Linked DNA regions of Homo sapiens. The protein of the gene in region 3 interacts with the protein of the main gene of each other region in a pairwise test. Each region holds a gene or a part of one and is shown on either strand. Other genes may lie near its edges. The genes, in order: alpha-crystallin A2 chain, DNAJB6 and CD209.

What was found.
Region 1: the proteins of CD209 (region 3) and alpha-crystallin A2 chain interact in binary tests that used the Homo sapiens proteins (3 or more experiments, as listed by UniProt).
Region 2: the proteins of CD209 (region 3) and DNAJB6 interact in binary tests that used the Homo sapiens proteins (3 or more experiments, as listed by UniProt).

What each region holds. Positions count from the first base shown.
Region 1 is NC_000021.9:6,502,149-6,505,896, reverse strand, and holds part of alpha-crystallin A2 chain, read right to left. Parts: intron 1-3,748. UniProt on the Homo sapiens protein: Contributes to the transparency and refractive index of the lens. In its oxidized form (absence of intramolecular disulfide bond), acts as a chaperone, preventing aggregation of various proteins under a wide range of stress conditions.
Region 2 is NC_000007.14:157,339,858-157,343,605, reverse strand, and holds part of DNAJB6 (dnaJ homolog subfamily B member 6), read right to left. Parts: intron 1-3,748. UniProt on the Homo sapiens protein: Has a stimulatory effect on the ATPase activity of HSP70 in a dose-dependent and time-dependent manner and hence acts as a co-chaperone of HSP70. Plays an indispensable role in the organization of KRT8/KRT18 filaments.
Region 3 is NC_000019.10:7,740,935-7,744,682, reverse strand, and holds part of CD209 (CD209 antigen), read left to right. Parts: intron 1-463; coding exon 464-576; intron 577-1,442; coding exon 1,443-1,644; 3' UTR 1,645-3,748.

The DNA.
Region 1 (3,748 bases), on a different chromosome or scaffold from region 3:
TTCAAGACCAGCCTGGCCAACATGGTGAAACTTTGTCTCTACTAAAAATACAAAATTAGCCAGGTGTGGTGGTGCATGCATGTAATCCCAGCTACTTGGGAGGCTGAGGCAGGAGGACCGCTTGAACCTGGCAGGCCGAAGTTGCAGTGAGCCGAGATCAGGCCATCCCTTACACTCCAGCCTGGGCAATGAGAGCGAAACTCCATCTCAAAAAAAAAAACGAAATGGACATTTTCAAGTTACTCACAAAACCAGTGAGACTTAACCAAGGTAAATTAGCCAGGTGTGGTGGCATGCACCTGTCATCCCAGCTACTCGGGAGGCTAAGGCAGGAGAATTGCTTCAACCCAGGAGACAGAGGTTGCAGTGAGCCAAGATCGCACCACTGCACTCCAGCTTGGGTGACACAGCGAGACTCCATCTCAAAAACAAAGATTTAACCAAGGTAATGGCATAACGAAGGTCATGACTTAACCAAGGCTGAACCAAGCATCTCCAAAGAAATGCAAAGCAGTCTTCCTAAGCGTCAGAACCACTCTAAAGACAGCTCAGAAAAAGAAATCTTGCTGCTCACACCTGTAATCCCAGCACTTTGGGAAGCTGAGGTGGGTGGATCACTTGACGTCAGGAGTTCGAGACCAGCCTGGCCAACATGGTGAAACCCCATCTCTACTAAAAACACAAAAATTAGCCAGGCGTGGTGGTGAGCACCTGTAATCCCACCTACTTGGGAGGCTGAGGCAGAAGAATTGACTGAACCTGAGAGGTGGAGGTTGCAGTGAGCTTAGACCATGCCATTGCACTCCAGCCTGGGTGACGAGAGCGAAACTCCATCTCAAAAAAAAAAAAAAAAAAAAAAGAAGGCCAGGCGCGGTGGCTCACACCTGTAATCCCAGCACTTTGGGAGGCCGAGGCAGGCAGATCACCTGAGGTCAGGAGTTCAAGACCAGCCTGGCCAACATGGTGAAACCCTGTCTGTACTAAAAATACAAAAAATTAGCTGGGCGTGGTGGTGGGCACCTATAATCCCAGCTACTCGGGAGGCTGAGGCAGGAGAACTGCTGGAACCTGGAAGGCGGAGGCTGCACTGAGCCGAGATCATGCCACTGCACTCCAGCATGGGCAACACAGCAAGACTCCGTCTCAAAAAAAAAAAAAAAAAACAGGACTGGAAATTGAACCCAGGCTGCAAACATAGCCTCATGTTTGTAGAGACTCATAGCCTCTGGCCCACAGGCTGGAGCACTGACAAACCCTGCAGGGGCTCCAGAGCAGGCAGTTTGAGCATTTAAAGGGTTTTGACTTGTTTCAGATCTGATCTCAGCTGAACTAATTCCCTGGATGTTAGCATTTTATTTTTTTAATTTCCCTCCCTCCTTCCCTCCCTTCCTTTCTCTTTTTCTTTTTCTTTTTGGCAGCATCTCGCTCTGTCGCCCAGGCTGGAGTGCAGTGGCACCATCTCAGCTTACTGCAACCTCCACCTACTGGGTTCAAGCGATTCTCCTGCCTCAGCCTCCCGAGTAGCTGGGAATACAGGTACATGCCACCACATGTGTTTTTAGTAGAGATGGGGTTTCACCATGTTGGCCAGACTGGTCTTGAACTCCTGACCTCATGTGATCCACCAGCCTTGGCCTCCCAAAGTGTTGGGATTACAGGCTTGAGCTAACATTTCTTTTCTGGCCTATTTCTTTTATTTTTTATTTTTTATTTTTGTTGTTGTTGTTGTTTTGGGTTTTTTTGAGACGCAGTTTCCTTCTTGTCGCCCAGGCTGGAGTGCGATAGCGCCGTCTCGGCTCACTGCGACCTCTGCCTCCCGGATTCAAGTGATTCTCCTGCCTCAGTCTCCCAAGTAGCTGGGATTACAGGAGCCCGCAGCCACTCCCCGCTAATCTTTTTTTATTTTTAGTAGAGACGGGTTTTCACCCTGTTGGCCAGGCTGGTCTCGAACTCCTGACCTCAGGTGATCTGCCCAATTTGGCCTCCCAAAGTGCTGGGATTACAGGTGTGAGCCACCGCACCCAGTCTGTTCCAAATTTAAATATACTTTCCCCTTTTTGAGAGAAGGAAATGTGTGCATTGTGGAATTCCAAAAACACTGCTTAAGAGATGTATGGGAGCTGAGGGAACAGGCAGAAAGAGATGAGTTTAGATCATCCCAGAGGCAGAAGGAGAAGCAGCAGCTGGAAACAAACAGGAGAAAGCCTCCATGGTCTTTTTGTTTGTTTGTTTTTGTTTTTGTTTTGAGACAGAGTCTCACTCTGTCACCCAGGCTGGAGTACAGTGGCGCCATCTTGGCTCACTGCAACCTCCGCTTCCTGGGTTTCATGTGATTCTCTGCCTCAGCCTCCCAAGTAGCTGGGATTACAGGCGCCCGCCACCATGCCCGGCTAATTTTTGTATTTTTAATAGAGATGAGGTTTCACCATCTTGGCCAGGCTGGTCTTGAACTCCTGACCTCGTGATCCACCCACCTTGGCCTCCCAAAGTGCTGGGATTACAGGTGTGAGCCACCTCACCCAGCCTGAAACTACTTCTAAATTTTAAAAAGAACTGTGGATGGCTGGGCGTGGTGGCTCACACCTGTAATCCCAGCACTTTGGGAGGCCAAGGCTGGTGGATCACCTGAGATCAGAAGTTCGAGACCAGCCTGGCCTACATGGTGAAACCCTGTCTCTACTAAAAACACAAAACATTAGCCAGGCATGGTGGTGGGTGTCTGTAATCCCAGCTACTGGGAGGCTGAGGCAGAAGAATCGCTTGAACCCGGGAGGGGGAGGTTGCAACAAGCTGAGATCGTGCCACTGCACTCTAGCCTGGGCAACAAGAATGAAACTCTGTCTCAAAAAAAAAAAAAAAAAAATTGCGAGGCAAGGTGGGGGATGCCTGTAATCCCAGCTCAGAAGAATCGTTTGAACCTGGGAGGCAGAGGTTGCAGTGAGCCAAGATCACGCCAATGCACTCCAGCCTGGGTAACAGAGCAAGACTCTGTCTCAAAACAAACAAACAAAAGAAATAGTTTCAGATAATCTTCTGTTTTCTTCTTGCAAAGAAATGACTTCATCAGAACTTCTTTTAGAAGCTTCTAAGTATCATTGAAAAATAGCTCTCTCAGTTTTTAAATTTTAGATGCAGATTTTTCCTATTGAGTGCATAAACTAGTTACTTTAAAGGCGCCCCATTTTAGCTATTATAGTCTGGGGTCTTCACGGGTTAAGTGAGACCATGTTTCTAGATACTGACAGAAGGTGGCACCATAAGCATTGTCCACGAATCCAGCTGCCGTCTCTGCAGATGCATGTCTGCTCTAGAAGCACAAGTGTCCATAATTTAGATTTTCCTTCTGAATGACCAAAAATGCCTAAGGGGAGGAATTTTGGTCACTAAAGAAGAAAATGGCCAAGCGCGGTGACTCACGCCTGTAATCCCAGCACTTTGGAAGGCCGAGGCAGGGGGATCACGAGGTCAGGAGTTCAAGATCAGCTTGGCCAAGATGGTGAAACCCCAACTCTACTAAAAATACAAAAAATTAGCAGGGCATGGTGGCAGGCGCCTCTAATCCCAGCTACTTAGAAGGCTGAGGCAGAGAACTGCCTGAACTGAGGAGGCAGAGGTTGCAGTGAGCCGAGATCATGCCACTGCACTCCAGCCTGGGCGACAGAGCGAGACTCTGTCTCAAAAAAAAAAAAAAAAAAAAAAAAAGAAGAAGAAGAAGAATGTTTAGATTTGTCAGTTGAACCAAGTTTCA
Region 2 (3,748 bases), on a different chromosome or scaffold from region 3:
GTGGTGGCGCCTGTAGTTCCAGGTGAGGCAGGAGAACTGCTTGAACCCGGGAGAGTTTGCAGTGAGCTGAGATCACACCACAGCACTCCAGCCGGGGCAACAGAGCAAGACTCCATCTCAAAAAAAAATAGTGGTTTCTAAATTCATCTGAGGCCAGGTGAGGTGGCTCACGCCTGTAATCCCAGCACTTTGGAGGGCCGAGGCACGCAGATCACCTGAGGTGTTCAAGACCAGCCCGGCCAACATGGCAAACCCCTTTCTCTACTAAAAATACAAAAATTAGCCAGGCATGGTGGTGAGCGCCTGTAGTCCCAGCTACTCGGCAGCCTGAGGCAGGAGAATTGCTTGAACCTGGGAGGTGCAGGCGCAGTGAGCCAAGATAGTGCCACTGCACTCCTGCCTGAGCAACAGAGCAAGACTCTGTCTTAAAAAAAAAAAAAAAATTACCTGGGTGTGGTGGTGCACATCTGTAATCCCAGCTACTCAGAAAGAAGGCTGAAGCACAAGAATTGCTTGAGCCTGGGAGGCAAAGGTTGCAGTGAGCCAAGATCACGCCGCTGCACTCCAGCCTAAGTGACAGAGTGAGACTTGGTCTCAAACAACAAAAAAAAAAAGCAAAAACAAAAAAAGTACAGACAGGTAGGAAAAAAAAAAACCCACAGCAGTGAATTTTCATTCCTTATCACACACATCACCTACTTATTTCATTATCCAGTATGTCCTAAAATATTTCTGAAACAAACACAGAAGTTATTTCCCCATTACTCAAGATCAGAGACCATTTCTTCAACTAGCACTCATCACCTATTAGATACTTCCAAGCTTAACTCCCTTTCATTAAAAAATCATAATAGGCCAGGCTTGGTGGCTCACACCTGTAATCCCAGCACTTTGGAAGGTCGAGGAAGGTGGATTGAGGTCACAAGTTCAAGACCAGCCTGGCCAACATGGTGAAACCCTATCTCTACTAAAAATATAGAAGTTAGGCCAGCACGCTGGCTCACGCCTGTAATCCCAACACTTTGGGAGGCCAAGGCAGGCGGATGACCTGAGGTCAGGAGTTGGACAGGGCAAAACCCTGTCTCTACTAAAAATACAAAATTAGCTGGGTGTCGTGGTGCATGCCTGTAATCCCATGTACTCGGGAGGCTGAGGCAGGAGAATCGCTTGAACCTGGGAGGCAGAGGTTGCAGTGAGCTGAGATTGCACCACTGCACTCCAGCCTGGGCAACAAGAGTGAAACTCAAAAAAAAAAAAAAAAAAAAAAAAAAATTAGCCAGGATAGTGGCACGTGCCTGTAATCCCAGCTACTCCGGAGCCTGAGGTAGGAGAATCACTTGACACTAGGAGGCGGAGGCTGGGGTGAGCTGAGATCACGCCACTGCACTCCAGTCTGGGTGACAGAGTGAGACCCTGTCTCAAAAAAAATTATTATTATAATAAAATAGGGCCAGGCTCGGTGCTTCACACCTGTAATCCCAGCACTTTGGGAGGCCAAAGCAGGTGGATCACCTGCTTCCAAACCAGTCTGGCCAACATGGCAAAACCCACTCTCTACTAAATATACAACAATTAGCCAGGTGTAGTGGCGAACGCCTGTAATCTCAGCTACCAGGGAGGCTGAGGCAGGAGAATCGCTTGAACCCCAGAGGTGGAGGTTGCGGTGAGCCAAGATCGCGACACTGCACTCCAGCCTGGGTGACAGTGTGAGACTCTAAAATAAACAAAGCAACACTCGGTTAAGTACTCAGTCTCCAGTGCTGCTGAAACTTATTTTTTCCAACTTTCTTGAATTCTGGATTCCATTATTAATCACAGGAAGGTCATCAGGACATACACAAACTAGAAAGAATCTAATTCAATCAATACTTTCTAAGCACTCTGTGTCCTGGACATTCCTATAAACACAAATAACTTCAGATTCAAAGCCCACCCAAGTGGTACATGCCATCTCAAGGTGGCAGAGAGGAATAAGTATTAGTACACAGTTCATAAGCATACCAACTAGAGCACACACGTATATATGCACAACACAAATATAAAACACACTTTTAATTTAAGCCTTTGGTGGCAAAAGGTAAGTAGAAAAATATCAAAGGGGGAAAAATCATATGTAGTGTAAACTAAATCACCCTTCCAAAGACACGTAATTTTGCAACACAGCTTAAGAATTCTAAAATATGGCCTGGCGCAGTGGCTCACACCTGTGATCCCACCACTTTGGGAGGCCGAGGCGGGTGGATCACGAGGTCAAGAGTTCAAGACCAGCCTGGCCAAGATGGTGAAACCCCCGTCTCTACTAAAAATACAAAAATCAGTCGGGAGCAGTGGCAGGTGCCTGTAATCACAGCTACTCGGGAGGCTGAGGCAGGAGAATCGCTTGAACCCGTGCGGCAGAGGTTGCAGTGAGCCGAGATGGCGCCACTGCATCCAGCCTGGGCAATATGAGATTCCATCTCAACAACAACAAAAAAATCTAAAATCTGGCCAGGCACCTGGCTCACACTTGTAATTCTAGCACTTTGACAGGCCGGGATGAAAGACTCACTTGAGGCCAGGAGTTCGAGACCAGCCTGGGCACACAGGGTGATTCCACCTGCGCGCGCGCACACACACACACACACACACACACACACACACAGCCAGGTGCGGTGGGTCACGCCTGTAATCCCAGCACTTTGGGAGGCGGAGGCAGGGGATCACCTGAGGTCAGGTGTTCGAGACCAGCCTGACCAACATGGTGAAACCGTCTCTACTAAAAATACAAAAATTAGCCAGGCGTGGTGACACGCGCCTGTCATCCCAGCTACCTGGCAGGCTGAAGCAGGAGAATGGCTTGAACCCAGGAGTGCAGTGAGCCAAGACCGCGCCACTGCACTCCAGCCTGGGACACAGAGCAAGGACTCCATCTCAAGTAAATCAGTCAGTCAACTAATCATCAATCAATATTCCTTCTCAAGTAGGATATCTCCAGGAACATGAAACAGGTCAACAGTGATTTATGTCCATACAAAAACATAAAGGGTTTTGTTTGACAAAACACCTCATTAATATCAATACAAAAAAAAAAATCACATTTTTACTAGTTGACTTTTCTGCAGGTAGGCGTTGTCGTTTTTCCATTCCTACATCATCGTTTCTAACATATTCTTGTTTTCACCAACTTTGCTCTTCTTCTCATTAACCTCATTTTTTTGAGTTTGATATTCTCAAATTCTATTCATCCTTGAACTACACCATTTGCTAAATCCTGCCACTGATCCTACTCTTACTCGCTAATGAGCCTGCAGTTACCCGCCTCTCACCACCAGGTGGGGTCCTGCACAAATTTAACCAAACCACATTTTGAACAGAATCATTTCTGAGGAAATGAAAAAGTTTTAAAAAGGTTTCCAAAAAACGCTGTTAATCCAGTGTGTAACCTCGATGCAAATAAATACTAAGAAGTAAAAATCCCGTCAAAACGTCAACTCACAAATACAAAGGCTAATTACATTCTCTTATTCCTCAACAGATATCTGTAAGCATTAACCAATATAGAAGCTGACCTTTACAGCAGACGACAGTAAGGTGTCTGTGCGGTCCCGCGGTGACACCCAGTCCACAGCGACACGTTCAGGATGACTAAAAATACCTGCCCAAGTTATGAAGTGCCCTCTTATAATACTCTTTAAAGTGACAGCCGGACGCGCGGGCTCACACCTGTAATCCAGCACTTTGCGAAGCCGAGGCGGGTGGATCACCTGAG
Region 3 (3,748 bases):
TCTGGAGGAAGAAGTCCTGATGGGTCGTGTTTGCCAGTTTCCCTGGTGTAAATATTCCCATGGTGGCTGATTTCAAGCTGTCGTTGTGATGTCACTCAGTGCAGAGCTGAAAGGAGATGTGCATGACCAGCAGTTAGGAAATGGTTGCCTCTGGCTCCAACACATTAAGCCCAGTTATGAGTAAATGTGCATGGACATGCACAGAACATGTGAAATGGATAAACATGCAGTATTAGCAAGAGGGTGTGAGGAGAGGCCAGCTGTGCATGGATGTGTGCATGTCAGGACACATGTGCCGTGGGATACACATGTGAGAGGGACTCAGACACGAGGGGGCTCAGGACCTAGTATACCAGAAGGCTGTAGGTTAGCCTACAAGCAGAACTTCCTACCAAGAGATGGGGAGACAGAGCCTGGAAAATGGGAAGCAGAGCTCCCTCCTGACTCCTCCTGTACCCTCCAGAACTTCCTACAGCTGCAGTCTTCCAGAAGTAACCGCTTCACCTGGATGGGACTTTCAGATCTAAATCAGGAAGGCACGTGGCAATGGGTGGACGGCTCACCTCTGTTGCCCAGGTAGATCTCAGAAGGGGCACCCTATCCACTGGGGCTGGAATTGTGAAACTCTGATTTGAACTTTCCCTGGGGATCCTCCCCAACTCCCTGACACCCTAGACCCAAGAATCTGGAGGTTTTACTGAGTTGAGGAAGGTGGTCTTCATACCCACTTCCAGACAGCATGGCAGGTGCCTAGAATTCCACCAGCAGAGCTGCAGGAGGAGCCTGCCACCGGGGAGGTGTATTAAAATATAATGTATTAATAGGAAGTCTGAGGTCCAGTAAGGCCACCAGCTCAGGAGACACCTGCCATTGTGAATAGCTTCTCATATACACAGATCCCTAGAGAGAGGACACATCACAGCTGGGGGCCACCTGGGGAAGCACCAGGGTCTGTTATGAGTCAGAGTGGTGGGGAGGGGGGACTGTGGGCCAGAGCCTTTATTATGGTTTCTGTGGAAAGGAAAGGTCAAGGCCAGGTGAACAGGCTTAGGATTGGGAAGTGTGAAGCATTTTTTGGGCTCTGGGGCACAGGGGCTGCCCCTCGCTGTCTGACACCTGGCCTTGGGGTGATTAGTACAGGATAGTGGCTTGGAGTACAAGAGCCCAGTAAGGCAGGTCGCTGGAGGTGTGGACTCCAGACTGGTTGGCTTGTATTTGAAAATCACACACTCAATAGGTGGAGTCCACCCAAGGACAGGTTGTGAGAAGAGAGGCAGGAACTCAAGGCATCGTGAGTCAGGCATATTATCAGGTATGCAGAGGGATTCAAGTCCAGCATACACACGCAGGGCAGATGTTAAGGCATCAAGATGACAGAAGGTAGAAACACAGCTCATGTAGCTGGCGGGGACAGAGGCTCACATTCCGCATGGGCTTTGCAGCTTCAAGCAGTATTGGAACAGAGGAGAGCCCAACAACGTTGGGGAGGAAGACTGCGCGGAATTTAGTGGCAATGGCTGGAACGACGACAAATGTAATCTTGCCAAATTCTGGATCTGCAAAAAGTCCGCAGCCTCCTGCTCCAGGGATGAAGAACAGTTTCTTTCTCCAGCCCCTGCCACCCCAAACCCCCCTCCTGCGTAGCAGAACTTCACCCCCTTTTAAGCTACAGTTCCTTCTCTCCATCCTTCGACCTTCACAAAATCTCTGGGACTGTTCTTTGTCAGATTCTTCCTCCTTTAGAAGGCTGGGTCCCATTCTGTCCTTCTTGTCATGCCTCCAATTTCCCCTGGTGTAGAGCTTGTTTTTCTGGCCCATCCTTGGAGCTTTATGAGTGAGCTGGTGTGGGATGCCTTTGGGGGTGGACTTGTGTTCCAAGAATCCACTCTCTCTTCCTTTTGGAGATTAGGATATTTGGGTTGCCATGTGTAGCTGCTATGTCCCCTGGGGCGTTATCTTATACATGCAAACCTACCATCTGTTCAACTTCCACCTACCACCTCCTGCACCCCTTTGATCGGGGACTTACTGGTTGCAAGAGCTCATTTTGCAGGCTGGAAGCACCAGGGAATTAATTCCCCCAGTCAACCAATGGCACCCAGAGAGGGCATGGAGGCTCCACGCAACCCCTTCCACCCCCACATCTTCCTTTGTCTTATACATGGCTTCCATTTGGCTGTTTCTAAGTTGTATTCTTTATTTTATTATTATTATTACTATTTTTCGAGATGGAGTTTCACTCTTGTCGCTCAGGCTGGAGTGCCATGGCGCGATCTTGGCTCACTGCAACCTCTGCCTCCCGGGTTCAAGTGATTCTCCTGCCTCAGCCTCACGAGTAGCTGGAATTACAGGCAGGCGCCACCAGACCCGGCTAATTTTTTGTATTTTTAGTACAGATGGGGTTTCTCCGTGTTGGTCAGGCTGGTCTTGAACTCCCGACCTCAGATGATCTGCCCGCCTCGGCCTCCCAAAATTGCTGGGATTACAGGTGTGAGCCACCGCGCCTGGCCTATTATTTTTTGTAAGAATAAAACAGGTTTATTGGGATTTGGGACTCTGAACAGTTCTGTCTCTACTACCTGATCTCCTCCTACCACGACTTTGGGATCTAGAGGAGCTTTGGCTCCGGCTGTGACGGCTCCGGCCGTTCTCACTGCGGCTGCACCGGCCCCCGCTGCGGTCACTATTTCTTCCTCTGCTAGGTGAATTGTGCCTCTCCTGGCTCTTTGACATGTGCTAGTGAGATTTCTTCCTTTTCCTTTCGGATTCCCCATTTCTTTTGTAGGAATGGTCTGGACTAGGGTTCTCCTTCCCCGCAGCCTGTAGTATTCATCGTGGTGGCCCACCCTCTCTCTCCCCTTGGAGCTCTTGCCAAAGGAGGAGACAAGCAGAGGTCTCTATTGGATTTCTCAACACCTGAAGAAAGTTGCAGTGTTTTCCTCTTGGACATTGTTGTATTTCAAATAAACCACAAATCATCATTTTCCACCGAGCCACTGGGCAGAATTCACACTGAAGCTGTCGTCCTGCGTACATACCATCGTCCGTTAAACAGAGAAAGAGCTGCTTGGCATTCTTCTTCCGACTGGTACTGAACATATATACTTGCCCCTCAGGTGAGGTTCCAAGTTGCAACTGACCTTGAACTGAATCACTCTCCCCACGTTATTTTTTAATTACTATTTTTTTTTAAAGATGGGGTCTTGCTCTGTCGCCAGGCTGGAGTGCAGTGGCGCGATCTAGGCTCACTGCAACTTCCGCCTCCCGGGTTCAAGCGATTCTCCTGCCTCAGCCTCCCGAGTAGCTGGGACTCCACTAAAAGTACAAAAATTAGCTGGGCGTGCACCACTGCGCCCAGCTAATTCTTGTATTTTTGGTAGAGACGGGGTTTCAACATGTTGACCAGGATGGTCTCGATCTCTTGACCTCGTGATTCGCCCGCCGCGTCCTCCCAAAGTGCTGGGATTACAGGCCTGAGCCACCGCGCCCAGTCTCTCCCCACGTTCTTGAACTCGGGCAGCACATCCTCACAGAAATCTAGGAACTGTTGGTAGGTTTCTTCCTCGCTGTACTCCAGGCTTGCTTCGGAGTCATAGTCATCCCTCCTGCACTGCTCCTTTCCAAACACTGTAAACATGCTTTTAATAAGAAGGGTAGGACTGGATGTTGGGAAATCATGTGAACATCTATCTCCAAATCTGCAAGCTCCTGTTTTACTGTAGAAGGGACAATTAACTCCATCCTTCTC